Linked DNA regions of Homo sapiens: region 2 is linked to region 1. Evidence: fine-mapped expression QTL. Tissue or cell type: whole blood. Region 1 holds a variant in brackets; the other region holds the start of a gene. All regions are shown on one strand. Distances are from middle to middle.

What was found. PIP is the estimated chance that this variant, and not a neighbour inherited with it, causes the effect.
Region 2: RALY-AS1 starts here. The variant in region 1 is fine-mapped to the expression of RALY-AS1 in whole blood (TOPMed, PIP 0.90).

Annotation. Positions count from the first base shown.
Region 1 is chr20:33,964,345-33,979,525 of GRCh38, reverse strand. It overlaps the pseudogene PIGPP3. Among named protein-coding and RNA genes, the nearest start is that of RALY, 22 kb to the left of the region's middle. The variant C/T (reference allele first, on the strand shown) is at 6,790.
Region 2 is chr20:33,986,238-34,001,418 of GRCh38, reverse strand. It overlaps RALY-AS1 (RALY antisense RNA 1), which reads left to right and starts at 7,052. Exons shown (of 2, transcript NR_109886.1): 1 at 7,052-7,214; 2 at 8,514-8,931. It overlaps RALY (RALY heterogeneous nuclear ribonucleoprotein), which reads right to left and starts at 7,508. Exons shown (of 10, transcript NM_016732.3): 1 at 7,288-7,508. RefSeq lists enhancers at 2,128-2,628, 8,065-8,591, 8,528-8,607 and silencers at 6,788-7,117, 7,338-7,387, 7,448-7,577, 7,758-7,867, 8,038-8,287.

The sequences.
Region 1 (15,181 bases):
AAACAACTGTATTCTGGTCACAGATTATGAGGATCAGGAATTCACACAGGGCACCATAGGGATAATTTATTTCTGCTCCATGATGTTTAGGGCCTTATTGAGGAAGACTCCCAGGGTTGAGGACTAGAATCATCTGAAGACTTCTGTGCTCACCTGTCTGGTGCCTGGGCTGGGATGACTCAAAGGTTGGGCACAGTGGGGACTGTAGATCACAATACCTACACATAGCTTCTCCGTGTGGCTTGGGCTTCCTCCTAGCATGACAGCCACAGGGTAGTTAAACTCCTTACATAGTGGCTCAGGAACCTGTGAGTAAGTATTTCAGTGAACAAGGCAGCAGCTGCATGGTATTTTACGACTCAGCCTCTGAAATCACACTGCATCATTTCTGCTATACTCTTTCTTGTTGTTGTTGTTGTTGTTGTTAATGAAGAAAAGATTTATTTAGTAATTACTACCTGCCCAGAAATTGTTCTGTGAATTTCACATACAACTCATCTAATCTTCACAATGATCCTATGAGGTATTTATGATTATCCTCATTATACAGAGGTGGAAAAGGAGGTATAGAGCCGTAAAGGTCATATTGTGCCACAGGTCACAATTAGCAAGTGGTAGAGCCAGGGTGTGAACATTAGGTAGGTGGGATTTCTGTTGTACTCTGTTGGTCAAAACAGAAGCCCATCCAGGTTCAAAAGGAAGGCACATGACACCACCCTTTTATGGGAAGAATGTCAAAAAATTTACTGGGCTAGCAAAAACTTAAATTTCCAAAAGACCTGCAGGTAGTGGCTTTAAATATATCTTTTTGTTGCCTCCGCCTCCTGAGTAGCTGAGATTACAATTTTTGTATTTTTAGTAGAGACGGGGTTTCACCATGTTGGCCAGGCTGGTCTCGAACTCCTGGCCTCAGGTGATCTGCCCTCCTCGGCCTCCCAAAGTGCTGGGATTACAGGTGCGCATCACTGCGCTCAGCCTTAAATATATCATTTTGAAAAAAAAGAAAATAGAGATTTCTATACTTAAGATGCTGCCTGATACCCTCACAAGTGTTCAGTAAACTTGCTTGTTATTATTACTTGAACTAAGTCTTTTTTTTTTACATGTATACCAATATAGAGAGAGACACAAGTATCATTGCACACAGATGCAATATCATACATACAATGCTGTTTCTTTTAAAAACTACAGTGTGGCTCTCTCTTCATATCTGTGTCTATAAAATTACTTCCTTTTAAAATATTTTTATTATGGAAAATTTCAAGTATATACAAAAGCAGAGGAAATAATATATCAAATTCCCATTTGCCCATCATCCAACTTCAGTGTTTATCAATTTATGGCTAGTCTCTACCTACACTCATTTCTTTATTCCCACATTATTTTGAAGCAAATCTCAGAAATCACATTTTTTCATTCATAAACATTTTAGTATGTGTCAGAGCTATCTTTCTTTTTTTAATGACAAAAGCAATACCTGGTTGTTACTTAAAAACACTAATGTTACAGACACAGATAACATGGAAAATAAATATTCCTTGCTATGGTTTGAATGTCCCTTCCAAAACTCATGTTGAAATTTATTTACCAATGTGATGGTATTGGGTAGTGGGGCCTTTAAGAGGTGACTAGGTCATGAGGGCTTGAGGGAGTGGGTTAATTTTCATGGGAGTGGGCTCCTGATAAAAGAAAGAGTTTAGCCCGATATCCTCTCTCTGTCTTGTGCACTAGCTTCCACCTTCTGCCCTTCCACCATGGGAAGACCCTCACCAGATGCTAATGCAATGTTCTTGGACTTCCCAGCCTCCAGAACGATGAGCCAAATAAACTTCTGTTCTTTATAGATTACCTAGCCTGTGGTGTTCTGTTATAGTAGCAGAAAACAGACTAAGACATCTTTCACAGCCACAATCTCTAGACATAACTGCTTTCTTTCTTTTTTTCTCTTTTGAGACAGGATCTTGCTCTGTCACCTAGGCTAGAGTGCAGTGGTATGATCAGGGCTTACTGCAGCCTCACCTGCCTGGATTCAAGCAATTCTCCCTCATCAGCCTCCCAAGTAGCTGAGATTACAGGCACACACCACCATGCCCAGTTATTTTTTTTAATTTTTTTGTAGAGATAAAGTCTTTCTACATTGCCCAGGCTAGTCTCAAACTACTGAACTCAAGCAGTCCTCCCACTTTGGCCTCCCAAAATGCTGGGATTACAGGTGTGAGCCACTGCACCTGGCTCATAACTGCTTTTGACATCATCTTAACTAATTTTCCTCTAGATCTCTTTTTCTATGTGTGTACCAGCATATAGCAATACTTTTCAAAAAAATGTATTTTATTTTGAAATAAAAATAAAGTATTTAAATATTTTAAAATAAAATGTTATTTAAAATAAAGTATTTTTATTCAAAATAAAAATACTTTTTTTGAAAAGTATTATTATAAACCTATTTGGTACATTGTTTTGTAACAAGAATGTGCTATTTAGTGATATATCTTGGACATAGATCTGTTGCACAAAGGTTCTGGGTCTTTCTGGTAGATTCTCCCATTCCTGAGACCATGGAAAGGTTAGGCAAGCTCTGGTGTGAAGATTTTAGCCAGAAGCCATAGTGCAAACCCAAGAAAGCCAGCATGATTTCCACCCTTCCTCTTCTCCCCTCCCCTGTTAGTTAGATATTTTGTTTCATTGGTTCAGCCCAGTCTGGAAAAATTATGGTTGGGTTTTGAGAAGCAGCTCTAAGCTGGCTATTTGAGAAGCAACAGTAATGAAGGGTGAGGCAGGCAGGCCCTCACCTCGTAGGCTGCATAGAACACTGCAAATGAACTTAGACTGGGATTCCAGATACCTTTGCTTCTTGTCTTGACTCTGCCCTTTGTATCTTTATTATGGTTAATTTGTTGAGACATCTTTTTTCCAGATAGACTATTAGGGTAGGGAACTGAGGTCTCTTCTTATTAGGTCATCTTATAGGCATTGATGTGGAAAAGAGGAAATAAATCTATCAGTATTTGGGGGAAAAGATTATGTAACTGAAAACACCAAGAGAATCAATTGCGAGACTGCTGACAACAATAAATGAATTCCACGGAATAACATGGTAAAGAATTAATAAACATCAACTGCTTTCATGTATGCAAACAATAGTCAATCAGAAGACACAAAGGAAGAAGATATCCCATTTGCAATAGCAACAAAAAAGAGGCAGAGATTCAATTTGTGAAGAAATTTAAACACTTCTTTACAAAATACCTGGAAATAAAGGTGCGAGATTTATATGAAGAAAAGTTTAAAATATTACCAAAGGACATGAAAGATTTGAACAATAGGAAAACGTGTCATGTTCTTGGATAAGATGACTCAGTAATAAAATATATATATATATATATTTCTTTTTTAATATATATGGCATAAGGAAAAAATATATATAATTATACACAGTCCTTATGTGCTCTCTCTCTCTCCCTCCCTCCCTCTCTCTCTCTCTACATATATATATATATATATATATATACGTGTATATATATACACATATATACACACACACACACACACACATATATATATATATATATATATATATAAATAGTCATACATCACTTAACCGTGAGGATAAATATTGAGAAATGCTTCATTAGGTTATTTCATCCTTGTGCAAAGAACATCATAGAGTGCACTTATGCAAACCTAGATGGTATAACCCACTACACACCCTATTGCTATACCATAGACATATATATGGTATAGCCTATTGCTTCTAGGCTACAAGCCTATACAGCATGTTACCATACTGAATACTATGGGCAATTATAACACAATGGGAAGTGTGTGTGTAATTAAACATATCTAAGTTGGCTGGGCACAGTGTCTCACGCCTGTAATCCCAGCACTTTAGGAGCCTGAGGCAGGTGGATCGCCTGAGTCAGGAGTTCAAGACCAGCCTGGCCAACATGGCGAAACACCATCTCTACTAAAAATACAAAAATTAGTCAGGTGTGGTGGCACGCACCTGTAATCCCAGCTACTCGGAAGGCTGAGGCAAGAGAATCACTTGAACCCAGGAAGCGGAGGTTGCAGTGAGCCGAGATTGCGCCACTGCACTCCAGCCTGGGCGACAGAGCAAGACCCTGTCTCCCAGATAAATAAATAATAAATAAACATATCTAAGCATAGAAAAGGTACAGTAAAAATATGGTATAAAAGATACAATTGTACACCTCTATAGGGCATTTACCATGAATGGAGCTTGCAAGACTGAAGTTGCTCTAAGTGCATCAGTGGGTGAGTGGTGACTGAATGTGAAGGCCTAGGACATTACTGTACACTACTGTCGACTTCATAAACACTGGACACTAAGGCTGCACTAAATGTATGAAAAGTATCTTTTTTCTTAAAAAATAAATTTAGTTCACTGTAACTTTTTTACTTTATAAACTTAAAAAATTTTAAAAACCTATTGACTGTTTTGTAATACATAGCTTAAAACACAAACAAATTGTACAGCTCCACAAAACTATTTTCCTTCTTTATATGCTTATTCTATAAGCTTTTTTGATTCTGAAGGTTTTTGTTTTTATTTTTTAAACTTTTAAATTAAAAACTAGGACACAAACACACACATTGGCCTAGGCCCACACAGGATCAGGATCATCAATATCATCATATTCCAGGTCCACCCACATCTCATGCCACTGGAAGGTCTTCGGCGGCAATACATACATGGAGCTGTCAACTCCTATGATAACAATGCCTTCTTCAGGAATACCTCCTGAAGGACCTGCTTGAGGATGTTTTACAGTTAACTTTAAAAATGTAAATAAGAAGGCTGGGTGTGGTGGCTCACAGCTGTAATCTTAGCACATTGGGAGGCTGAAGTAGGAGGATCCCTTGAGGCCAGTTCAAGAGCAGCCTGGGCAAGAAAGCAAGACTCTCATCTCTACAAAAAAGTGAAAAAAGAAGGCCAGGCGCAGTGGCTCACGCCTGTAATCCCAGTACTTTGGGAGGCCGAGGTGGGCGGGTCACCTGAGGTCGGGAGTTCGAGACCAGCTTGACCAACATAGAGGAACCCCGTCTCTACTAAAAATACAAAATTAGCTGGGCGTGGTGGCTCATGCCTGTAATCCCAGCTACTCGGGAGGCTGAGGCAGGAGAATCGCTTGAACCCGGGATTCGGAGGTTGCGGTGAGCCAAGATCATGCCATTGCACTCCAGCCTGGGCAACAAGAGTGAAACTCTGTCTCAAAAAAAAAAAAAAAAAAAGAAAAGAAACAATAAAACAAATAAATAAATAAGAAAAGAAAAAGAATGAGAGAGGACTACCGCTATCAAAGATACAATCTTTATAAATAATAATTAAAGCAGTATAGTGTTGTTGTATGAATAGATAGACAACTAGCCGGATAGACTAGAAAGCCTAGAATACATCCAAAATACACACAGGAATTAAGTATATGATAATAGTCGCATCTTACACCAGAGGAGATAAGATAGACTGTTTCAAGAGAGTTGACGGGAAAACTGGGTACCCATATGATAGAAAGCAACAACAGCAACAAGTTAGATCTATTCCTCTCTCTCTTCACCAGGTAATTTTTTTTCTTTTTTGGTCTCTAATTCCTGGTGATAAGATAGGGGAATTTTTAAAAGATAGACAGGACTCTGGTGATGCTGCCTGGCTAGATTCCAACTCCTGGGTTTAAGCAATTCTCTCGACTCAGCCTCCTTAGTAGCTGAAACTACAGGTACATGCCACCACATACAGCTCAGGATAATTTCTACAAGGATCAAAGATTCAAATAAAAAAGTAAAGATGTTGGCCGGGCACAGTGGCTCACATCTGTAATCCCCGCACCTCGGGAGGCCGAGGCGGACGGATCACCTGAGGTCAGGAGTTCGAGACCAGCCTGGTCAACATGGTGAAACCCCGTCTCTACCAAAAATATAAAAATTAGCCAGGCGTGGTGGCACGCGCCTGTAGCCCCAGCTACTCGGGAGGCTGAGGCAGGAGAATCGCTTGAACTCGGGAGCTGGAGGTTGCAGTGAGCCGAGATCACGCCACTGCATTCCAGCCTTGGCAACAGAGCAAGACTCTGTCTAAAAAAAAAAAAAAAAAAAAGTAAAGACACTAAAAGAAAACATAGGAAAATTCCTTTATTTTGAGGGCATGGAAAAGGCCTACCTAATTATGACTCAAAACTCAGATAAATTTCACTTTTTTTAAACTATCAGATTAGCAAGACCCTAACATGTTATCTGTCGGCAGAGAGTCAGTGGAGGGGGCATGGCAGTCTCAGGAGAATAAGGAATATAAGTTGGTGCAATACCTATAGAAGATAATTTGGAAACATCAAAATTAAAAATACATGTGCTCTTTGTCCCAACAATTCCATTTCTGAGAATTTACAATAGCACCTTTACCTTTAAGTATGAAATGACAAATGCATAAACTTATTCATTGTGGCATTGTTCACAACGACAAATAATTAGAAAGAATCTAAGTGTTAACCAGGAAATTGGTTTAATCCATTGCAGCACATCTGTATAATAGTACATATATGTAAAAAAAGAATGTGTGGGATTTCCAGTTCCACCAACATGGAATAGCTCCATTTCTCCCAGGTCCTCTCCCTAAAAACTAAAAATCCCTGGACACAACACAGCAAACCTAGGAAGATTCTCAAGGGTGGAAAGAAGAAGGCACACTACAAACCAACAGCTCTCATGAACTTGGATGTAAAAGTCCTCAACAAAATATTAGCTAATCAAATCCAGCGATAGATAAAAAGAATTATA[C/T]ACCATGACTAAGTGAGATTTTGTTCAGGTATGCAAGGCTGGTTCAATATTCAAAATTATTTCTTCTTCTTCTTCTTTTTTTTTTTTTTTTGAGACAGGGTCTCACTCCATCACCCAGGCTGGAATGCAGTGGCACCATCTCAGCTCACTGCAACCTCCGCCTCGCAGGCTCAAGTGATTCTCGTGCCTCAGCCTCTCAAGTAGCTGGGATTACAGGCGTGTGCCAACATGCCCAGCTAATTTTTGTATTTTCAGTAGAGACAGGGTTTTACCATATTGCCCAGGCTGCTCTCGAACTCCTGGACTCAAGTGATCCACCTGCCTTGGCATCCCAAAGTGCTGGGATTACAGGCGTAAGCCTCTGTGCCCAGCCTGGCTATTTAAATTTAAGTTAATTAACATTAAATTAAATTAAAAATTCACATCCTTAGTCAAGCTAGCCATATTTCAAATGTTAAATAGTCATCTGTGGCTAGTGGCTCGTGTATTGGACAGCACAGAATTACAAAACATTTTCATCACAGAAAGGTCCATTGGACATCACTGACCTAGAGAATTACCCTTTACTGTGTGCTTACTATAAAATATAGCTGTCTGTTGAAACATCTCAGTGAGTGTTCTCTGGGGCTAGATTGTCTAGGTATGAACCCCAGCTCTGCCAGTCACTAGCTGTGTGACCCTGAGCAAGTTACTTCACCTCTCTGTGCCGCATTTCTTCAACTGTAAATTGGGCATCATAATAGTATCTACATGAGATTACTGTGAGGATTCAATGAGATAATACATGTCAAACACTTGCAACACTACGCTGACCCATAGTAAATTCTCAGCACCTGTTGTTTTTATTTAAACCTCACAGCAGCCCTGTTAGGTAGGCGTTATTATGGTTCTCATTTATGGGAGCAGAAATTGAGGCTCAGAGAGCTGGAATAACTTACTCAAAGTCACATGGCAATGAAGTGGCAGAGCTGGCTTTGAACTCCACAGCCCACAGTTTTCTAGACTTTAAGCTACTTCTGCCTCTGAGGGGTAGGATGCCTCTGCTTCTAGCCTCAGCTGGCACTTGGTCTAGCTCCACGATCTTCTTTGCCAGATGAGCTTCTGCCAACCCTACCAGGGGCTCCAAGTACTCATCCACATCCCTATCACCATCAGCAGGGGCCTCCACCATCCACTGGCACCCATGAGAAAGCCTTCCCCTTCCTGCTGCCCTAGGTGAGGTGCTGGGCCCAGAGCACTGCACAAATAGAACATGAATTCTGCTGACAGAGTAATAATAAGGCCCCTAAATCAACACTTGGACTTTTTGCTTTACATATATTACTCAAACTACATGTCAGGAATTAATACACATTATAAACCAGATGTGCCAGTTACATATTTCTCTCTGGAACATCTCTTGGATGCCTCCTGAAACTGCTACTGGTGTTAATCACACATTGTTTCCACCCTACTCTGCCCTTTGTGGGACTGCGCTGACAGCAGGAGGGGCAGGGAAGGGGCAGGAAGGATGGGAGGCCTAGAAGATCTGTAAGGAGCCAAAGCGCTGATTTTCTCACTTTGGAACCCGGCCCAGCTGTGTTGGGTTCCACAACAACTTCTGTATCTCTCTTTTTTTTTTTTTTTTTTTTTTTTGAGACAGAGTTCTGCTCATGTTGCCCAGGCTGGAGTGCAATGGTGCGATCTCGGCTCACCATAGCCTCTGCCTCCTGGGTTCAAGTGATTCGCCTGCCTCAGCCTCCCAAGTAGCTGGGACTACAGATGCATACCACCATGCCTGGCTAATTTTTTGTATTTTTAGTAAAGACAGGGTTTCGCCATGTTGGACAGGCTGGTCTCAAACTCTTGGCCTCAGGTGATCTGCCTGCTTTGGCCTCCCAAAGTGCTGGGATTACAGGCGTGAGCCACTGCACCAGGCCCACTTCTGTATCTTTCTGCTGTGCAGACTGGGACTGTTAGCCTGATATCCCAGTACTTAGCTGGGGTCTGGCACATGGTGCATATTCAGAGAAGGTGGCAGAGGCTGCTGATTTCCTACTCCAGGTTATTCTCTCCTTGTTTCCAAAATAGGGTTTTTAAAAACCTTGATGTTCTTTGGGGCTGCAATGTACCAAGCTAAAAATACTCACCTCCATAATTTCTTTTGTCACTAGGTATGGGTATGGGAACTAGCTGTGGCCAATAAGATGAAAAAATATATATATGCTGGGGATTTCTGCAAAGTCCTGACATAAGGGCCATTAGTTACTCCTTCTCATTTCCTCTCCCTCTGCCTGGAACATAGTTGTGATGGTCACAATTGCAGCCATCTTGCAACCATGAGGTGAAAAGTATGAGGACAAAGGCCTACATGCTAGGATGGAGGTGTGAAAGGGTGGAAATAATCTGGAATCACATGGATATATCTGAGCCTTTGTGCTAGTCCTGTTATGCCCTACCGCCAGACACACTGTTATTTAAATAAATAACAAGATAAACAAGCCTCACTCTTAACCTTGCACTTATCGGGACTTATTGCATTCCTGATGCGTTTGTTTTTAATGTGCTGGCATCCATAGGAAAGCAACTCTTGGGGCACCCCTTTGGTCCTTGCCTCCTTCTCTAAAGTATGCCTATGACTACATTCCTGCCCACACCCCACAGTCAGAGTGTCCACCACATTCCCCACTGGGTGAGTGGTGGGCCATGGCCATACCTGATTGAGCCAATGAAATTAACCTGGCCTAACCACTTTCCCTCCCTGACAATTTCAACTCAATCCAGAAATTTGCATTAGAACATAGAAATTAGCGTTTGCAGCCTGCTGTGGCCCCAGGAAGGTTTCCTTTGGCCAGGATAGTGCTTTTTTAGATTTTTGAAAAACATCAAGCTTACCCCAAATAGCTGGATATCTGACCTCTCTTGAAATAGTGGAAAATCTGGCATCACCGGGCTCACATTCCACATGGCAATAAATGGCTGTGGCTGGGAAATGGCTGCCCCCTCTAGACAGGCACACACTCGCACAATTTTTACAGTCCCTTGGGAGAGCTTCCCTTGGGACTATGGAAAATGTGTGTGCCTGTGTTCTATACATGGCTCCTTTTCATCATCCCTGTTGGCTCCTGTAGGCATTTGAAGTTTAAGATGCCTGCTTTAAGTAGTCTCTATAAGTCCCCAAACCGTGCTGATAATAATGCTGATAATGAAGATAACAATAGCAACAATTACTGATGGCTCCTGTGGCCTAATAGCTTGGTGAGGGCTTTACACACGTTGTGTGATTTCATCCTCAAAACAGGAAAACTGTTGTCCTCATTGTACAGATGAGGAAACAGAGCCCAAAGAGGATCAGTAACTTGACCAAAACCTTGTGGATGGTAAACTGTACATCTGAGATTTGAATCCAGGCATTCTGACCTCAAAGTGGGTGCTTCCTAAACAGTAAGCTATAATGTCTTTCCATGAATTAAGACAAAACCACAGCTGGAAAGAAGTATGTGGCAGTTGTATTGAGAGAGACAGAGAAAGAGACAGATAGAGAGAGAGAAATTGAGGCACCAAAGTGGGAGGCAGAGGGAGTAGCTGCCTGGGCCCCTGTTTTCTATTTCCCTGTGAAGCCTAGCTGTAGCCCACATTTGGGTTGCACGCAAACCACAAGTTGGGATTCATAATGCAAGCAACAGAAACTGACTGTGGTAGATTTAAGCAGGAGAGGAATCAGTAGAAAAGATACCAGAGAGCTTTTGGCATTGCTGGGAAGGCTGAAGAACCAGACCTGGACACCGCAATGGCAGAAACACAGGGCCTGTGAGGACCCTGCTGCCTCCAGTGCAGAGTACCAGACCCTTCCACTTGCCTCTCTGACTCTGCTAAAGCTCCACATCTGCATGCTAGGAACAGTCACTGGCCCTACTGCCCAGGCTGCCCCAGAGACAGGATATTGCTGCTTCTATGGCCACCACCACCAGACTACCTCTCCACTGTCCCTGTGTCTTTCTTTTTTTTTTTTTTTAAGATTTAAGTGGAAGTTTTTGTTTTATTGGTTTGGTTTGGGTTGGGTTGTTGTTGTTGTTGTTGTATTGTGTTGTGTTTTCTTTTGTTTAGAGACAGAGTCTCGGCCGGGCACAGTGGCTCACGCCTGTAATCCCAGCACTTCGGGAGGCTGAGGTGGCCGGATCACTTGAAGTCAGGAGTTCAAGACCAGCCTGGCCAACATGGAGAAACCTCGCCTCTACTAAAAATACAAAAAGTACCCAGCCATGGTGGTGTGCACCTATAATCCCAGCTACTCAGGAGGCTGAGGCAGGAGAATCGCTTGAACCCAGGAGGCAGAGGTTGCAGTGAGCCAAGATTGTGCCACTACACTCCAGCCTGGGTGACAGAGCAACACTCCATCTCAAAAATAAATAAATAAATAAATAAAATTTAAAAAATAAAAAATAAAAAAATAGAGTCTCACTCTGTTGCCCAGGCTGGAGTGCAGTAGCATGATCTTGGCTCACTGCAACCTCCATCTCCCAGGTTCAGGTGATTCTCCTGCCTCAGCCTCCCAAGTAGCTGGGACTATAGGTGCGCACCACCACACCTAGCTAGTTTTTTTAAATTTTTTAGTAGAGATGGGGTTTCACTATGTTGGCCAGGCTGGTCTCAAACTCCTGGCCTCAAGAAATCCACCTGCCTCAGCCTCCCAAAGTGCTAGGATTACAGGCATGAGCCACTATGCCCAGCACTGTCCTTATGTCTTTATATTACCGACTCCTCATTCAAAGTTTGGTTTATGCTTCTGACTGGCTGAGCCTAGGTCACTTGCCCAAACCTTAGCTGCAAGGGAGGCTGAAAAGCAAATAGCTAGCACTGCCACATTCTATGTGGGGAAGTGAGCTCTACTTCCCACCAAGACTCATATGATGGGAAATTCTTCAGACATGAGTATGTGTTTCTGAGGCTGGACAGCCAAAAGGAACAACTATCCATAAAAATTCACAGTGTCCCCTTTTCAATAAGCTAGCTCAAGTGATTAGCATTTAGAATTGCATCAAAAAAGAGATAGCACTCAAGTGCAGTGATCAAGGAAAATATTTATTTATTTTTTTGAGACAAGGTCTCAGTCTGTTTTCCAGGCTGGAGTGCAGTGGTGTGATCACAGCTCACTGCAGCCTTGACCTCCCAGACTCAAGCGATCCTCCTGCTTCACCCTCCCAAAGTTCTGGGATTACAGGTGTGAGCCACCCCACCTGGCCAGGAAAGTATTTATAAAGTTGTAACAATCGTTAAGGGAAGCCAACGGGAATGGGGGAAGCACCCCAGAGACTGCAACAGTTGAGGGGGGTACATTATGGGTCCAGGCCTAAAGAGGCAGGGAGAAGGAGTGCTTCCGTGAATGTGGAAAGAGTTGAAGTTGAGAAAACGGTTTTCCATGATAGTTCCAGTCCTTGGCCCCAGTGGCGGGGGAGCTGGGTAAATAAATACCCTCATTTCTCTCTTCTTCCATCCTCTAGTATCCTGCACGTGTCTCCCATTGAGCAAACCCAATAGAAAGCCAGGGAGTAAAGAATCCTTTCGACATATTCCATTAAAGTGAATCTCTGGGACACAGCACCACTGGTGGAGAGGGCGAAGGGTAGATCTGGAGAGCTAAACAGAATAGCTAACAACCCATGGCATGATCCTGATCTTACCATTGAATCACTCTAAGCCGGTTTTTCCACTTTAATTGAGAGACTCTGGCATTTTGTGGTTCTCCCAGAACTTTCCAACTGGCCACTGCTGACATCTCCTCCTTTTTGGCCTGACCTGTTAATTTGTTCCTATCTATAAGCCTGCATGTGAAGGTCACAGCCTTTGGTTTCCAAAAAGCAGAGTCTTTTCTATGTGGTCACAGGGAGTCGCCTTTGTTGCAGGTGAAATCAATTCTCCATCCAGGTCCCCAAATTCTGATTTGACGGCTCTCCTGGAATTTTGCCAAACAAGCAACTTGCCTCTGTAAGGCATGAACTGTCTTCCCAGATATCAAGAGCTGCCCTCGTGGGGTGGGTTGTTTCTTTCTTTCTCTCTCTCTCTCTTTCGAGACAGAGTCTCACTCATTGCTCAGGCTGGAGTGCAATGGTGCGATCTCGGCTCATTGCAACCTCCGACTCCCAGGTTCAAGTGATTCTCCTGCCTCAGCCTCCTGAGTAGCTGGGATTACAGGCGCCTGCCACCACACCTGGCTAATTTTTTTGTATTTTTAGTAGAGGCGGGGTTTCACCCTGTTGGCCAAGCTGGTCTCGAACTCCTGACCTCAGGCGATCTGCCCACCTCGGCCTCCCAAAACGCTGGGATTACAGGTGTGAGCCACCACGCCCGGCCTGTTTATTTATCTTTCAAAGCCTCATTTGGTCTCTTTTTCCTCTCACGACTTGGTCTGCCAGCCAAATTTTACTCTAGCTTCCCGCATTCCCTGTTGAGTGATCATCTCTCCATGACCCAGATCTTAGTCCTTCTCTCTACAAAGAACTACAAAGAACATCGTGTCTCTACCTTAACTGCAGTCTGGTGACTCTGTTGCCAGCATGGCTTGAAATGGTTCTTGCCTAGACTTATTTTTTTTTTAATGGTAATGCTGTATTTTATTCTGTTCATTAACAATACATGAGAACACTTACAATATTCATTGAACATAATCTAAGAGAAGATCAATTTACAATTTTTACATCTCCTCTATTAATAAGAGAGATGGTTGAATTAATTTATGGTCAAAATTACGATGGCAAAAACTTATAAATAAATAAATGCTTGGTGTTAGTGTGTCCGGAATTTATTCCCTCCAGCGGGTTCTTGGTCTCGCTGACTTTAAGAATGAAGCCGCGGACCTTCGCGGTGAGGGTTACAGTTCTTAAAGACGGTATGTCTGGAGTTTGTTCCTTCAGATGTTCAGATGTGTCCAGAGTTTCTTCCTTCCCGTGGGTTTGTGATCTCGCTGACTTTAGGAGTGAAGCCGCAGACCTTCACAGTGAGTGTTATAGTTCATAAAGGTGGCACATCGGGAGTTGTTTCTTCTTTCCGGTCGGCTGGTGGTCTCGCTGACTTCAGGAATGAAGCTGCAGACACTCCCCGTCAGTGCAGAAAAGTTCTCCAAGTCCCCACCCGACCCAGAAGCCCAGCCAGCTTCACCTCTCATTAGTATGGCCAGGTACATTTCAGTTTTTGGTGTAAAGGTCTTTGGCTACAAGAAAGAAAATTTGGTTTACTTCACTAAATAGAAATAGCTCTTAATGCTGGAATGGCCTCCTCTTAGTATTTCTTCTGCTGTTGATTTTTAGCATAGTTATCTGTGATTGTACGAATGGAGTCGAGTGAATGGGGTACAAACAAGAGCACATAGCCAATTACTATAGTAATAAGGAAGTAGAGAGGTAATGCAACTGTCCAATATTTTTGAGGCCAATAGGTTAAACCTAAGGAGTTTAGCCAAGATTCAGGAATAGAAGCCTACACGAGGTAAAGTATGAAGCCAAATTGGGAGCTTAAGAGAAGCAGAAGGCCATAAATCGGTCTTTCTGGCAATGGTGACAGTGAATTTTCCACCATTTTTCCTGGGGCTTGAGACAATCTCAGCACTGAGTTCCCTGTGCAAGCGCCGACCAGGAAGCCCCAGTGCGGGGCGAGGGGGAAAGAGGAAAAATTGAGGGAAAGGCCTAGGCGCGAAGGCTCCCCCAACCCAGGCGCAGGCACACGACGACCCTCCCGCTGGTTGGGAGCCAGTGAGCGCCTCTTGCCTAGATTTCTGATGGGAGAAGCTGTTTCTCCTCATCCTTAAAGTTTTGAGTGGATGACCTAGATAAATGAGCAATGAAACTATGAAGACTAAGTTCAAAGGAGTGACATTTAGCATTGTGATCATCTAAAATCTGTACAAGTTAGGCGATGCATTTAATAAGTGATTATAAATATTTAACGTATACATATACAGCAAGTGACAAGCGTTTTATCATGAGCATTAGCATTCTTAGGGAGAGGTGGCAGTGGAGTGGACTGTGATGTTCGGCACAGGCAACCCTCCTCCCCCACTGAGGAATGAAGGATTTATTCCACCTGCTACTGGGAAAAGTGTTGGCAGATGATCCTTGGCTCTAAGCCCTCTTTGGGAATTTCCTTGGCAGCTGCCTTTTCAGGGCAGTCTGCATAAATGATTGATCAGCTTGGGAGCTTAGAGGCCTGGTCCCCTTGCCTCTACTCAGGACAACTTGGAAGACCTATTCCAGTTTTAGAGGTCTCCATGAGGTCAGTGGAAGCCTTTGTTCTGACATTGCACTTCAATTTCTCCCTCTGCTCCATCCTGCTTCCTTCTCTGCTCTTCCACCGGTGTTGATCCCAAGAGCACTCCCTGAGTAACTTCCTGCATGTTAATCTCTATCTCAGAGTTGGCTTC
Region 2 (15,181 bases), 22 kb before region 1:
GAGCTATTCAGTCTCTACAGATGGCACTTCAAGGGCCAGGTAACCTCAGTAGAGGCATCTACTCCATAAGCTAAAGCTCTTAGGAAATGCAAGTTTCTGGTCTAGTGTTTTTCCATTATTACCATTGTGTGAAAATCTTAAAATGTTTTTTATTTTTCCTTTATTATGTGATTTTAAACAGTTTGCTACATATTTTAATGTAATTTTTTTATAGTCTTGGACTCCAAGTTTGTCCCATGAGGCTACAGCTCCAAGTTTATAATGGAACTCAGCATACAATTTGATAAATTCATCTCACAAGCAATTTTTCAGCAATCTGTCCACTCTAAAAAGCAATATCCATCTGTTTATATACTGAAAGGTATCTTTTGTGAACCCAGAATTTAACCCTCTGAGATACTCTCAATACTTTAGCAAAGCCCTTTCTCCTTCCAGAGATAAATTCTCAAGCCACTTCCACAAAACTGTAAAAAGGTAGAAATATCACTCAAGATTATCTAGTCCAATTCCCTTGTTTCACAGACAGGAAGACAGAGATCCCACAGAATATTAGATAATTACAATTAACATGGGTTTGGCAAGCAACAAAAGCCCACTGACTGCTATTTTCCCCAGTCAAACTCATTGGTGTGTTGGGAAGATAGCCAGATTTGCACTTTAGTTAGTAGAGCACTCCCTAGGAAACTCAAGTATGTACCCTCTAAGAAACCCAAGTATTCAGCCACAACCCCCTACCCCAACCCCAGAATAGAGAACAGGGGGCAGTGGATGTCTTAAATGGCTCTTCTGGAGATGGAGACTAGAGCCCAGGGACAATATCCCATCTTTCCTTCCTTCCTCCCAGGAGGTACAGGACATTGATTACCATGAAAGCCATTATGAAATGACAGAAGACACTAACACTGAGGAAATAAGGCAAGGCTGTGGAAACAAAAGATGACCAACATTAATACTTGGCCAGATACCTGCTTCTACTTATTCGTTCGAAGAGAGGGGAGAAGTGAGAGAGACAGGGACCTCCAACCCTTTTTCTGTCCCTACCTCCCCACCCCCACTCTTTGGGCCTTTATAGAATTTCAGGGACCCCCCCAGATGATTTTATGAGGAAACAGGGCTATAAAAAGAAAGGACCTTAGTCCAGCCCACACACTGACCAAACGATGCTCAGGCTAGTGACAAGACTTCCTATTTATTCCACTGCACTCTGTCTCTATTCCTAAGGGTCTGTGAGCTGCACCCTGAGCACAATTTCCTTACAGTACCCAGGGGGAAGTTGTAGGACAAGCAGGTTAACATTACGGCTGTCATTTTCTCCCTTCCAGCTATATAGACATGAAGCCAAAATTGAATAAGACCAAGACACTCAAGTGAAAACCTTGCTATCTCCACCCCTACTATATCCCCTCACCAATGCCAAACTAAGAAGGGGGAGAAGAAGAAAGAAATACCTCTCCTAGAGATATATTATCTAAACCACCACCTAGAATCATAAAATGTAATTGCTAGAAGGGACCTTATGGGTCATCTAGTCATTATTCAGATGAATAAACCTAGACACGTGCCACCCGAGAAAAAGACTGGAGCACACAGTGGGGTCTCCTGACTCCTATCCCTAATAGAAACCCTTCCGGGTCCCTCTCCATCCTGTCCTACCCTGCCCTGCCCCATCCACCCTCTCCCCAGGCCACCGCTGTATCCAAGCTACTGAGACTTCTGCCCTTCTGGATCATGAGCTCCTTAGGATACGTTTTACTTATCTTTGTTTTCCCAGTGCCTAGCAGAGAGTAAGCAGAGAAGTGGCTTCGGCTTAGAGAGGGACTTAGGAATACACTAGTACACGAAAAGACCAGTGCCAAAGGATGTAGCCTGGATAAAATGTAAACTTTTCTTGGCTTAACGTAAGCAGTTTCCAGGCTGTGCCACACCCGGATGTCTAGGATTGAATATCTCCTCTCTTCCTAAACTAATGTTTGCATCATCCAGTTTAGCCAGGAACATGACCAGTTGTGCCATACTCTCACTCTCTCCCTTTCAGACCTGACACAAAGAACTAGAATCCATAACCAGAGGTAAGTGAAAGCATATGTAAGGAGACCCTGCATAAGAAACCCTACCCCCTCCCTTACGTGCTCCTTCTTCTCCTGTGTCCTCACCTCAATAAACAGCACCCATTTACAAAACTGCACCAGGTAGAAACCAGATGTCATCCCGATTCCTTCCTTACCCTCCACACCAATAATCTTTGTCTCATCACTCAATTCCACCTTTTTTCTTTCCTTTTTTTTTTTTTTTTTTGAGATGGAGTCTCACACCCAGGCTGGAGTGCAGTGGTTCGATCTCAGCTCACTGCAACCTCCACCTCCCAGGTTCAAGTGATTCTCCTGCCTTAGCCTCCCACATAGCTGGGATTACAGGTGCCTGCCACCACACCCGACTAATTTTTTTTTTATTTTTAGTAGAGACGGGGTTTCACCACGTTGGCCAGGCTAGTCTCAAACTCCTGACCTCAGGTGATCCACCCACCTCAGCCTCCCAAAGTGCTAGGACTACAAACGTGAGCCACCACGCCCAGCAATTCCATCTTTTTTCTGCACACACTCTTGCACACGCTCTCCCACAACCTTCATTTGAAACACCATCACCTCTTGCCAACCTCCTAACTGGTCTCTCTGCCCACAGTGTTCTAGCTCTCCAGTCCGCTCCTGAACAGGCAGCCAGAGATATCCTTCCAAAATGCACATTGAATCATGGCCCCCTCACCTCCGGATGAAGTCCAAACTCCTCAACACAGGCAAGAAGGCCCTTTCCTGACTTGGCCTCTGCTCTGCCTACCTTGAAAGTCTCCTGTCTGGCCATATCCACCCACCTCAAGCATTATGCTCCACCCAAGAATCCTGAGAAATTTGTTTAGCTCTCTTGGCCCGTTTCCTTCAACTACAGAATGGGAATAGTAACAGTACGTACTTTCGGGATGGTCTTAACCTATTATCACCATTTCTGAACTTACTGTTCCTTCTACCTAGAACAGTCTTATCTCTGCCTCTTCCCTGACTCCCCAGATCTCTTCTTTTCCTGGCTTATGTCTGTTCTCTTGAGGGCTAGGCTTAACCAACTTCTCCTCCTAAAAAGCCTTCCCTGACCTTCCAATGCTGGGTTAGGCATCATTTTTCTGTGCTCTCCTGGTGTCTGTCCCTGTGACAACACTTCTCACACTGCCTGTTTCCTTGCCTATCTTTCCCACTACGCTATACAAACCCAAATCCCTAAGCGTAGCACCAGGTCTAACAGAGGCTCATTAATTCTTCAGTGAATGAAAAACTTTCCAAAAATGAGGTATCCAAAGAAAGACAATCTCAACAAGTAACCAACTCAAATGTCAGCCAGGTGGCTGGTCTAAATGACTGTAAGGTCCCTCAACTACAAGATTCTATTCAATAAATTCAACACACTGACCTCATGGGTCATATTTGTTTGAACTTTAATATGCAGGCAATGTTGGGGCCATCAGATTTTTAAGGAGAGTGTGACATGACCAGACACATGATCATGTGTTTGTTACCCTATTAACCATCTCTGAGACACTGCCTCTCCCAACCCCCAGTTGTTATCAGGACAATATTCCAACCATCTTCATAAACATGAAGAGCCCACTCCCCTAAATGGACCAACACAGAAAACGGTCAAAGGGCATTTTGAAAGGCTATATGCAGCATCTAACTCCATCTTAACCAACTGCAAGCAGTGAGTATCCATAAACATCCTCCAAGAACCCAAAAGCTAATCCCTCCTGTGTGCCTCTATGGAAAAAGGGGGAAGAAAGAGGGAACATTTCATAAAGGTGATCTACTTAATCATTCTGAGTAGTTTTGATCCAAGCTGCTGTCACTGCACTGTTATTCCTGATAACTGCAGCCCAATATCCCCAAACCCTGGACTGTCAGAAGGGCAGGTGCAAACAAGGTGAGGGTGGGGAGTTATCTCGGTTCTATTTTAAGGGTGTAATAGCCTGGCGTGGTGGCTCATGCCTGTAATCCCAGCACTTTGGAAGGCCAAGACAGGAGGATCACCTGAGGTTCAGGAGTTCGAAGCCAGCCTGGCCAACGTGGTGAAACCCTATCTGTACTAAAAATACAAAAATTACCCAGGCGTGATGGTGCATGCCTGTAGTCCCAGCTACTCGGGAGGCTGAGGCAAGAGATCCCTTGAACCCAGGAGGTTGAGGTTGCAGGGAGCCAAGATCGTGCCACCGCAATCCAGCCTGGGCGACGGAGTGAGACTCCGTCTCCAAAAAAAACAGGGTATAAGGTCTCTTCTGCAGATACTGGGGGGCCAGCAGAGATTCAAAACAGGCTTCAGTGATACAGAACATCAACCTAAGGGGGAGAAAAGTAGGTCTTACTCAGAGAGGCCTGGGTTCCTGCCCTGGAGCTGCATGCCACATCTCTGCTGCAGGTGAGGACTAATAATTTTGCATTTACAATGCACTCTGAGACTAAAGAAGACACTAAGTGTGCCAGCTTTGCAGGCACAAAAGGACAAATATTGCATGATTCCACTTACATGAGGTTCCTAGAGTAGTCAAATTCACAGAAAGTAGAACGATAGTTTTCAGGGGCTGGAGGGAGGAGGGAAGGGGGAGTTAGTTTAATGGGTACAGAATTTCAGTTGGGGAAGATAATGGACAGTGATGATGGTTGCATAACCATGCGAATGTATTTAATGTCACATAAATGTACACTTTGAAACGGTTAAATGGTAAATTTTATGTTATATATATTTTACCACAATTTTTTTTTTAAAAAAAGCATGCCAGCTTTAAGGTTATACTGTCTGCAGTCTGAATACTGCCATGGCCACTTACCAGTTACATGACCCTGAGGCAGGTAATGTAACCTCTCTAAGCCTGTTTCTTCTATAAAACAGGGATAATAATAGTACTTAATTCATAGGTTGCTCTAAGAATTAGTAATATAGTCCATAAAGTCCTCAGTCCATTGACTGGTGGTACACGTTAAGTACTTAATAAATTTAGCTATTATTACTACCACTATAAAGCACTTTCATAGCCATTTTCTTAACAATCCCCACAACAACCCTATGAGTTTACAGATAAGGAAACTGAGGCTCAGAGAGCCACAATGAGTGGCTCAGTTTATGATGTCAAATCAAATCCTCTGCTCCAGAGAGGTGTCTTGTCCTCACTACTTACTCATTCTGTCATCTAAGGCAAGTGCTATGCTGTGTCTCCATTCCCTCACAGTAAAAAAAGAGACATAAACCAAGCTCTGCAAACTACCTCACAGAAATGGATTAGAAATTAAATCAGATAATGGTTATGGAAGAGTATATAAGCCATAAACACATAAAACCGAAGTGGTGACTTACGAGAACTAGTACACCTGTGCTTAAACCTGGCCTCCTCTTAATACTAACCATAAGGCACAGAAAGGGGTGGGGACTATAAAACTTCCTTGGGATTTCCAATTACTCAGGATTCCTGACCTTAAGACCTGAATAAGTGGTTTCGTGCCCTTTTAAGAAGTGGCAAGGTATGGGAGAAATAAAAATATTACTGGATTAGGAGGAAGAAGACTGGAAATTTTAGTTCTCACTCTGACACTAAGGCAGTCTGAATTCAGACAACTTACTTCCCCTTTCCAAGGTTCAGTTAACAGGGAAGCGGGGAAAGGCAGATATGAAAAAGTTGGACCAGATGGTAAGACCCCTTTCAGCTCCCACATAGGACTCGTAAATCCAGAATCCTGGCCAGGCACCACAGACGTACCAGACTCCAAAGAACTAATGTGAACATCAAGAGACTCCTCAAGACCTGGCCCAGAAACTCCCTTGCCTGATTTTTAGACACTCCCTCCAACCGGATCACATTGAAAAACTGGAACATTTGCCAAAGTTAATTTTAGTTCACTTTAACCACTCTGGGCCTTATCTGAAAATAGGAGTAATATTTGTTTGAAGGCAGATGACTTGAGCTACTCCCCCTAACCCCCATCAAACTAGGATCGATAAATCTAAACACAGAGAACCTGCAAGGTCTGGGAGGAGGAACACACCACACACAAACTAAAGGGTGGATCCCACCGTTTACAGTCTCAAAGCTTCCTTGAGCCAAAACCCCAGGGAATTTGAGTTGTGTCTGAGACCTGGAGTCTGCATCCATCAACTTCTAACTGCCGCAACACTAGCAAGGAATTCATCCAAACCTTTCCCTTTAGAACTATGGTAACCCCAGAATGGGATTTCATCCACAGTATAGTGGACAACGGCCCAGAAGTCAGGGAAAACCCAGAGTTATGCCCCTAATTAAATGGTGTGACCCAAGGCTAGGTAAAAATACCCTCTGCACTAAGAGATGATACATGCTCACACCAGGAAATATTAATAAATAATAGGTACTGGCACCACTCCTTTGCACTTCTGTGGCTACTGTGACTTGGAGAAAATTACTTGACCCCTCTGCGCCTTAATTTCTGCTTTTGTAAATGAGGATAAACCAGAAGGCCGTTGTGAACATTAAATGAAATAAGGCTTGGGAAGTTCCTGGGTGAAGTCTCATTAAATGTTCCCTGTCGGTGTTAAACACTTCTTTCACATATTAGTTCCCTCCCTGAATCCACGAACACCCCGCAAAGCGAGTTTCCTTCTTTCCCCCCATGTCACCGAGAGGCAAACTAAGACTCGGCCGCCAAGGAGGCTGAGTGAAACGCGGATACGGCCCCAGTTCGAGGGCCCGTTGTTGTTTCTCTCCGAGCCCAAGGCGTGCAAAGAGCCCAGAAGAGGCGGGAGCCGAGGCAGGACAAGCTCTGCGCGCCTCCGGGAGCCCGTAGACCCAGTCCGGGTTAGGAGAGCCGGAAGCAGCCGCGGCCGGGCCCGCCTGCGGCCTCCCCGGAGCAGCCTCCGTTCCCCTCCCTCCGCCCCTCGCCGGGCGGGGCGGGGCACGAGCACAAAAGACTCCAACTTCCGAGCGGGCGCGGGCCCACCCAGCCAACTACTGGCCCAGACTTGGCCCGCGGAGAGAGCAGACAGGGAACGCCGGGAGCAGGACCGGGCGCGGAGGGCTGGGGCCGGGGACCCGGGGCGGCGGGTCCGAGTGGGAGAAAGGAGCGGCGGAGGGGGCCTAGAGTTACTCGGGCTCCCGGGACTCCCCGAAGGGCAGAAATAAGTTTCTAAAAATAGGCAGCGGCCTGCCGGAAGAAGTGAGTGAACGGAAAGGCACAAAGCACACACCCTCCCCGCACCCCTAAGGAGACGCCCGCAGTCCCCACTCACCCGCGCCGAGAGGTCTGGAGGAAGCCGCGCGGCTGGGAAGGAGGCGGTACTGCCGCACTCGGGGACGTAAGGGAGGGAGGAAAAGGGCGGCTGCGGCGGGAAGAGGCTGGGCACACGCGCGGGAGTCGTCGTCGTCGCCGTCGCCGCCGCTACCGCCCCCTCAGCTTCTCTGGGTTCCGCTGCCCCGAGCTGGCGCCGCTCGCGCGCCCCGCCGCACTGACAGCGGCGCGAGCCCCGCAACCGCGAGCCCTGCCCTCGGCCGGCACCACTGAGGCGCGCGGGGGTGGGGGCACCCGGAGCGGCTCCCCGCAGCTCGGCTCCGCCCGCCGCTCCGGCCCTGGTTCCGGGCTCTCCTCCTTCTCTGTCTCCTGGGAAGGACACGGTGACACGAGCACGAGGAGTCTGCAGCCCCGCCCAGAAACAGCCCGGCTTCCCAGGCGCATGGGCTCTCCCCACCCTCTCAGCCTGGCTTTGGAAAGGTCCAGAGCTTCGGCGGGGACGGGAGGAAGGCGGGGCCAGGGTGGGGCCTGAAAGGGAGGAGGGACTGAGACGCGGCTTGGGGAGGCGGGGCTGGGGCGGGAAGAGGGCAGCTTGCACAGGTTTGGAGCCGAAGTAGGGGCGGAGCTAAGATGGTGATGAGGCCCTGGGAAGAGGGTCGCCGGACCAGTGGGGAAGGCCGTGCAGGAGATGGAGAGCCGGGAACCAGGACAGCGCTTGAAAGGAGATGCTGTGGGCGGGGCTAAATGGAGAATCGCCCAGAGGGCGGAGCCACGGGTGGAGGGAGGCGGGGCTGAAGAGAAGCTTAGAGTGGGAGGAAGATGGAAGCGGGCCTGAAGGAGGCGGGCCCGGAAGCAGGGAGGGGAGGAGGGGCCCCGGGGGTGGCTACTCTGGGCGGGTGCCGGAAGGAGGCGTGCCCCAAGGAAGGACTGAGGGGTGGTGCTTGAGGTGGGCGGGGCCTGGAGATGGCGCTCAAATCTGCAGGCTGTGGGCGGTGCAGGAGGGATCCGGAAGAGACGAGGCAGGAAGAAACTCCTGGTCCTTTCGCTTTTAAGGAACGTGCCACCTAGACAAGGTGAGGGTCGCTCTTCGCTGCCTAATCTGGGACTGGGCGGAGAGGCCGCGCTAAGGGTGATCTCCGAAAAAGATGCAGGAGATGTTTTATAACTTGATCCAGGTGCTAGTCCTCTCTCCTACACATTTCTCCTGTCGGGATTTCTCACTTTCAGTGTTCCAGCCTCCGGTGAACCAGTCTTCCTAGTGAGAGCACGAGAAGCCCGTTGTCCTTCATTCCTCAGCTATGGATTTCCCTGAAAGTTGAGAACTGACCATATTCTCGATGCCTCCTCCGACCTGTGATTTCATGACTCACATCGCTTCCCCAGAACCTGCTTAACAGACGGGATTCCTGAGAATGGAGCAGAGTTTGAATTCAGAGTCCTGGCTTTGCCATACCAGCAGTTATAATTGTCCTTCTGTTGTTTGATGACCTCCCTGCCCTGCTTCAAAAGGAAGAGAAATCAAAGAGTTGACGACCCTGAGCGCAAGGCCTGGGACGTTCTTCCCCAAACTCGCTTTAATATCACCTTCTCAAAAGAACTCTTCCCTGAACACCTTGTCTCAAGATGTTCTCTAGTTTGTCTTCTTGTTCTGTCATTTATTTGTCTGTTCATTGTTTGTGTGTTTTTTGAGGCGGAGTCTAGCTCTGTCGCCTAGGCTGGAGTGCAGTGGCACGATCTCGGCTCTCTGCAACCTCTGCCTCCTGGGTTCAAAGCGATTCTTGTACCTCAGCCTCCCAAGTAGCTGGGATTACAGGCGTGTACCACCATGCCCGGCTAATTTTTGTATTTTCAGTGGATACGGGGTTTCATCATGTTGGCCAAGCTGGGCTCTAACTCCTGACCTCAGGGGATCTGCATTTGAGGATAAACCCTGTCTTGGCTCCTCCCTGACGGGGGTGAGAAGTAGCCCTCCTGGAATTGCCTCAAAGCCCCCGGTTATCACCAGTGTTCTCGGTTGCAAATTACGAAACATAAATAAACTCAGACTAACAGATGCAGCAAAGGAATTTATCAGGAAGGAATGGGGAGCTCCCAGAACTGATGGGAAGGCTGGAGAACCAGGCTCAGAAAATGCACTGAAGTGGTGAGCGCAGAGGCTTGAATGTTGCCAGGACTCTCCTCCCAGTCCTTTATCTCTTCTCTCTGTATGCGAGCTTTTCTCCTCAAGGCTAGGCACCTGGCTGCAGCAGCGCTCACCACTCACAACTCTCACCCGTTCCACCGGAGAGAGACTGAGGATTTCTGCTTCTGGTCTGAAGGACAAAATTTTAGGGAAAAACTTTGATTGGTCCAACATAGGTAAGTCCCCGTCCCTAGACCAATCATCTATGGGTGGAAAACCAGGTGCTGTGACTGGCCCAACTTAAGCCAGGTGCCATTCTCTAACCAATACTGTGAATAAGGAAGTGGGACGTACAGGGAGATGGCAGCCCCATCGGAACCATATGGTCAGAGAAAGATGCATTTCCCAAAAGATGGAGTTCATGCTCTGGGGCAGATTGAATAATAGATTTTCACTACACCTGCCCCAGAGTTACCCCCAACCAATACATTACTTACTGCCCAACTCTCATCATTCCTTCTCTGCTCAAAACCCTTCAATGGGCTGGGCGCGGTAACTCACGCCTGTAATCCCAGTACTTTGGGAGACCGAGGTGGGGGGGATTACTTGAGGTCAGGAGTTCAAGACCGGCCTGGGCAACATGGTGAAACCCCATCTCTACTAAAAATATAAAAATTAACCGGGCGTGGTGGCAGGCACCTGTAATCCCAGCTACTCAGGAGGCTGAGGTGGGGTAATCGCTTGAACCTGGGAGGTGGAGGTTGCAGTGAGCCGAGATCATGCCACTGCACTCCAGCCTGAGACACAGAGAGAGACTCCGCCTCAAAAACAGAAAAACAAAAAACAACCTTCAATAGCCTCCCATTGCCATGTCATCAGCATGGATCAAAAACTCAAATGTCATGCCGGGCACAGTGGCTCATTCCTTTAATCCCAGAATTCTGGGAGGCTGAGGCAGGAGGATTGCTTGAACCCAGGAGTTTGAGACCAGCTTGGGCAACATAGTGAGACCCTGTCTCTACAAAAAAAAAAATTTTAATTAGCTGGCATGGTAGCATGTGCCTGTACTTCCAGCTACTTGGGAGGCTGAGGCCAGAGGATCACTTGAGCCCAGGAGGCCAAGGCTACAGTGAGACATGCTCACACCACTGCATCCAGCCTAGGCAACAGAGTGAGACCCTTCTCAAAACAAATAACAACAACAGCAAACCCTCAGGTGTCTACAGGGGCTAGAAAGAAGGTTAGGCATGAGACAATAGGGAGTGGAGAGCACTGTCATGAACTGGAGGATGTGTGTTGCATACTGTTCCTAGAATGCAGGTGCTGAGATGTAGGATTCTTCAAGAGAGCCCCCAAATCTGGATTTTCATATAAAATCTCCCAATTTCTAAATGTTGGCTCAACTATTTTTAAAAACCCTGTGCAAGCCAAATGAATTATGTCTGCAGGCCAATTACTGTAGGCTGTGGTCTAAAAATGAGCAATCTCTGACCTTTATAGGATAAAGCCTATAATCACACACCCACCTTTGGGGTCTGTCATCTATTACTACGTAAGAAATCATCCCGAAAATGTAGTGACTTAAAACAACAATGATTTGTTACTTCTCACAATTTTATAGAATGACCAGGTGGTTCTTCTGCTCCATGTGGTGTTGGCTGGGAAAAGCTTCCTCCTGTCTCCACCTCCACATGTTCTATTTCCTTTTCAAGCCCAACTGCCAATGGCGCCTCCACCCTGAAGCCTGCCTCATCTCCTGTGCCACACACATTGCCACTGGCCAAGTCTAAATGAGATGCCGTGCTCTCCAAGCTTTGTTGCTCTTTATGTATAACTATTAGAGCACACATTTAGCTCACCTAGAGAATGGAGGTCTGCCTTGTCCATCTTTATTTCCTTCTGGCACAGTCACACAGGAAAGCCCCATGGGTGCTGTCAGATTGGATTGAACTGAGCTGACTCTTGGAGATATTTAGTCAAACTTGCCCATTTTACAGATGGAGAAATGACAACTGGAGAGGGGAGTTCTACTGGAGAGGGGAGTTCACACATATACACTGAAAGCTGCCCATCAAAAGAGTTGCAGAACCAGGACTACAGCCCTTGCATCTTGACTGCCAGTACGATGCAGGTTAAACTCTGTGTTTGATGCTTGTTGATGTGGACGTCTGGAACTTGAATAGAAGACATTTCTTATTTCAGATGCATCCATTAGCAGGTCTTAGCCAGGAGCCAGGCCCTTGCAAGTATATATTGCAAGTAATTGATGACATTGGAGCCAGAAATCGAATGAACCGGGCCCAGTTCAATCCACTTACTGGACAAGCTCCTCAAGCACTCTAAGCCCCAATTTCCTCCTCTGTAAAGTGGGCATAAATTACATTTACCTTGAGGGTTGCTGTGAAGGCTAGAAATAATATATGTAATGTCCCCTGATACACAGAAGGTGCTCAAGAAATAGTAAGCTCTTCTAATGATTGTTATTGATGGCAAAGATGATGAAAAAACAAATGCTCTGACTTCTCAAAGGAGAGAGAATCATCCCTGAGGATTGTGTCTTGGAGAACATAAATCCATATTTTCTCTTTCCTGAACAAATTCCCTCTGGAAGGGCACAAAGGGAACAAATTCCCTTGTTAGGAAGGAAGGAAGGGAAGGAAGGATGGAAAACAAGAGCAAGGAAGGGTTGGCAGGTTGTGACTGTCTACCTCTCCCTGAGGCTTGCTCTGCTACACCCACCCCAAACTCTGGTCCATCCCATTTCCATGCTGAGATCAGGCCACACACAGAAGTGTTGGTGTCAGACCACCAGCTTTGAGCCATCCCTGGGAATCCCCAGGATACTGGATAGCAGATTTGGAGCATACAGTTCCCACCCACTGTGACTGACGGCTAGGGAGCTCAAGGTTATGGAGGAAGCTCTCATAAGTCAATGCAAGTTTGTGTGTCTCCCGTTCCTCACTGGCTTAGCCCTCAGAGCCCTTGTCCCTGCTTTCTGCCTTGCAACTAGGTCTTCACATTAGTGTTTTATCAAACAAAAGACAGGCTGACATCTTTAAAGTATGGTCTTTATTAAGTAGGGAGCAAATCATTCCACACCTTCCCTCCCAATACCTCCCTCACCAGTGACTTCAAGCCTTCAAACAAGAGGGGACACCTCTCCCCACTTCCCAGTGACCTTTCTCCGCCCCTCATTGCATCCATGAGTGACACCACTGAGATCAGATGCAGTGATGTTAATTGAAATGGACATTAAGGGCTCACTTGCTCAAGCAGAAGCACATTAGAAGAAATATAAACGAGGAAGACATTGGGTCAGTAACATTTGTTCTAATGAGAATAACCATCTCTAGAGCATCTTGTTCAAAAAGGATTGAGTGCCCAGGAAACAACAGATACATGAGGCCTTCCACCCCCACCCCACCCCCAATACTCAGAAGTGTCACACATACTTGCAGAGACTTTTCAATCATCCTTGCTTCAATCATGATTCCCCAGGTGCATTTCTGTGGGTGTCACCCAGCACATTCCCCCTCGTGTTCTTCATCTGTTTCTCCAAATCTACTTCTCCATATTATTTTAAGAGTTTGTGACCAGATGTTGGTAACATGTGGTCCCAGATGTTCTTATTTGCTATACCTCAGGAATTCTTGACTAAGTGACCCAAGAGCTTCTCAACTTTGGATCCAATAAGGGGAACCTAAGGCTAAAAGAATCCCATCTGGAGTAGAGAGGAAGATACCCAATTACCCAATTTTTTTGTTTGTTTTTGTTTGTTTTCTGAGACAGAGTCTCTCTCTGTCACCCAAGCTGGAGTGCTGTGGTGCGGTCATAGCTCACTGCAGCATTGAACTCCTGAGCTAAGCAGTCCTTCTGCCTCAGCCTTCCGAGTGGCTGGGACTATAGGCATGTACCACCATGCCCAGCTAATTTTTAAAAAAAGTTTTTGTAAAGACAGGGTCTCCTTATGTTGCAAAGGCTGGTCTTGAACTCCTGGGCTCAAGAGGTCTTCCCACCTCAGCCTCCCAAAGTGCTGGGATTACAGGCATGAGCCACCACATCTAGCCCAAGTTTCTGCATAAAGAACATGAAGGTTTTCCTTAGATCATGCTTTACATGGCACATCATGTCTTTATGGTTATTAGTGGGCAGTTGCAAGGTATAGATACCATTTTTGTCTATGCTGTATCATCTCCCAATATTCTTAACAGCATCTGACTTAAAAAAATTTTTTTTTTGAGACAAGGTCTTCCTCTGTCACCCAGTATGGAGTGCAGTGCTGCAATCATGGCTCACTGCAGCCTCAACTTCCCAGGCTCAGGTGATCCTCCCACCTCAGCCTCCAGAGTAGCTGGGACCACAGGTCGTGCCACCATGCCCAGCTAATTTTTGTATTTTTTTGTAGAGACAGGGTTTTGCCATGTTCCTCAGGCTGGTCCCTAACTCCTAAGCTCGAGCAATCTGCCCGTCCCAGACTCCCTGTAAGTGCTTGGATTACAGGCATGAGCCATTGTGCCTGGCCAGCATCTGATTTTTCTGTGAGCCTCTACTCCTATTCTTGGTCCAGGCCATAAAGAGTATGGAAACTAAAGTCTGACTGCCTAGGTTTGAATATTGGCTCTGCCATTGACCAGCTATGTGAACCTGGAAAAATTCCTAACCTCTCTGTGCCTCATATAAGAAATGTGGAGAATAGTATCTACCTCATGGAGTTTTTGGGTTATATGAGTTAATTCAGATAAAATGTTTAAAAGAGTGACTGGCACATAGTAAACACCCCCCAAATGTCATCTAGTATTAATATTATTACTATTAGTTCAGAAGGGGCTGACTTCATTCCCCCTGGCCCTGGTGATGGCACCTGACCCAGGCCTGGCCAATCAGGACATTCTGTCCCCCTGTCCACCATGGAGTCCTTCTCCATGGTCAGTCATACCAGTCATTTGGATTGGCACTGTGGGCTGTGATCTAATGTGAACTCTGAAAGCCTGGTCATGCTGGGCCAAAGCTGCAAAGTAAAGGTAAACATCAAATCTGGGCTGGTTCATCAGGAGAGAACATTCTGAGTAGGGAGACCTGGGGACTATCCAGTTTCACCTTGCAGGTGAAGGCCCACTCTCCCTACTCTAGCCGTTAGTTAGACCCCATGAAAATAATTGCAGTAGACTGTTAATTTGATGGCTTCCAGTGAACCATGCTTCTGGCATTCATACTCTTATGTAGTCCCCTCCCACATTGATTCTGGACTTTGCCATATTGATGCAGGGCAGGTAAGCCCCAGAATTGGGGCTTAGCCCGAGAAGGTTCTTCACTTCATCCAGGAAAGAATTCAAGGGCAAACAGGTGGTGGTAGATGCCAACATTTTTTTTTTTTTTTTGAGACGGAGTCTTACTCTGTCATCAGGCTGGAGTGCAGTGGCACGATCTCTGCTCACTGCAACCTCCGACTCCCTGGTTCAAATGATTCTGCCTCAGCCTCCCGAGTAGCTGGGATTACAGGCAGACACCACCATGCCCAGCTAATTTTTGAATTTTAGTAGAGATGGGGTTTCCCCACGTTGGTCAGGATGGTCTCGATCTCCTGACTTCATGATTCACCCACCTCAGACTCCCAAAGTGCTGGGATTACAGGTGTGAGCCACTGTGCCCAGCCTAGATGGCAACTTTTATTGGAGCAGCAGTGTCCAACAGCAGCAGAGGTACTGCTCCTTGTGGAACAGGACTACCCCCTAGGCAGCATGCCCAGAGTAGCAGCTCAGGGGTAATTCTGTCG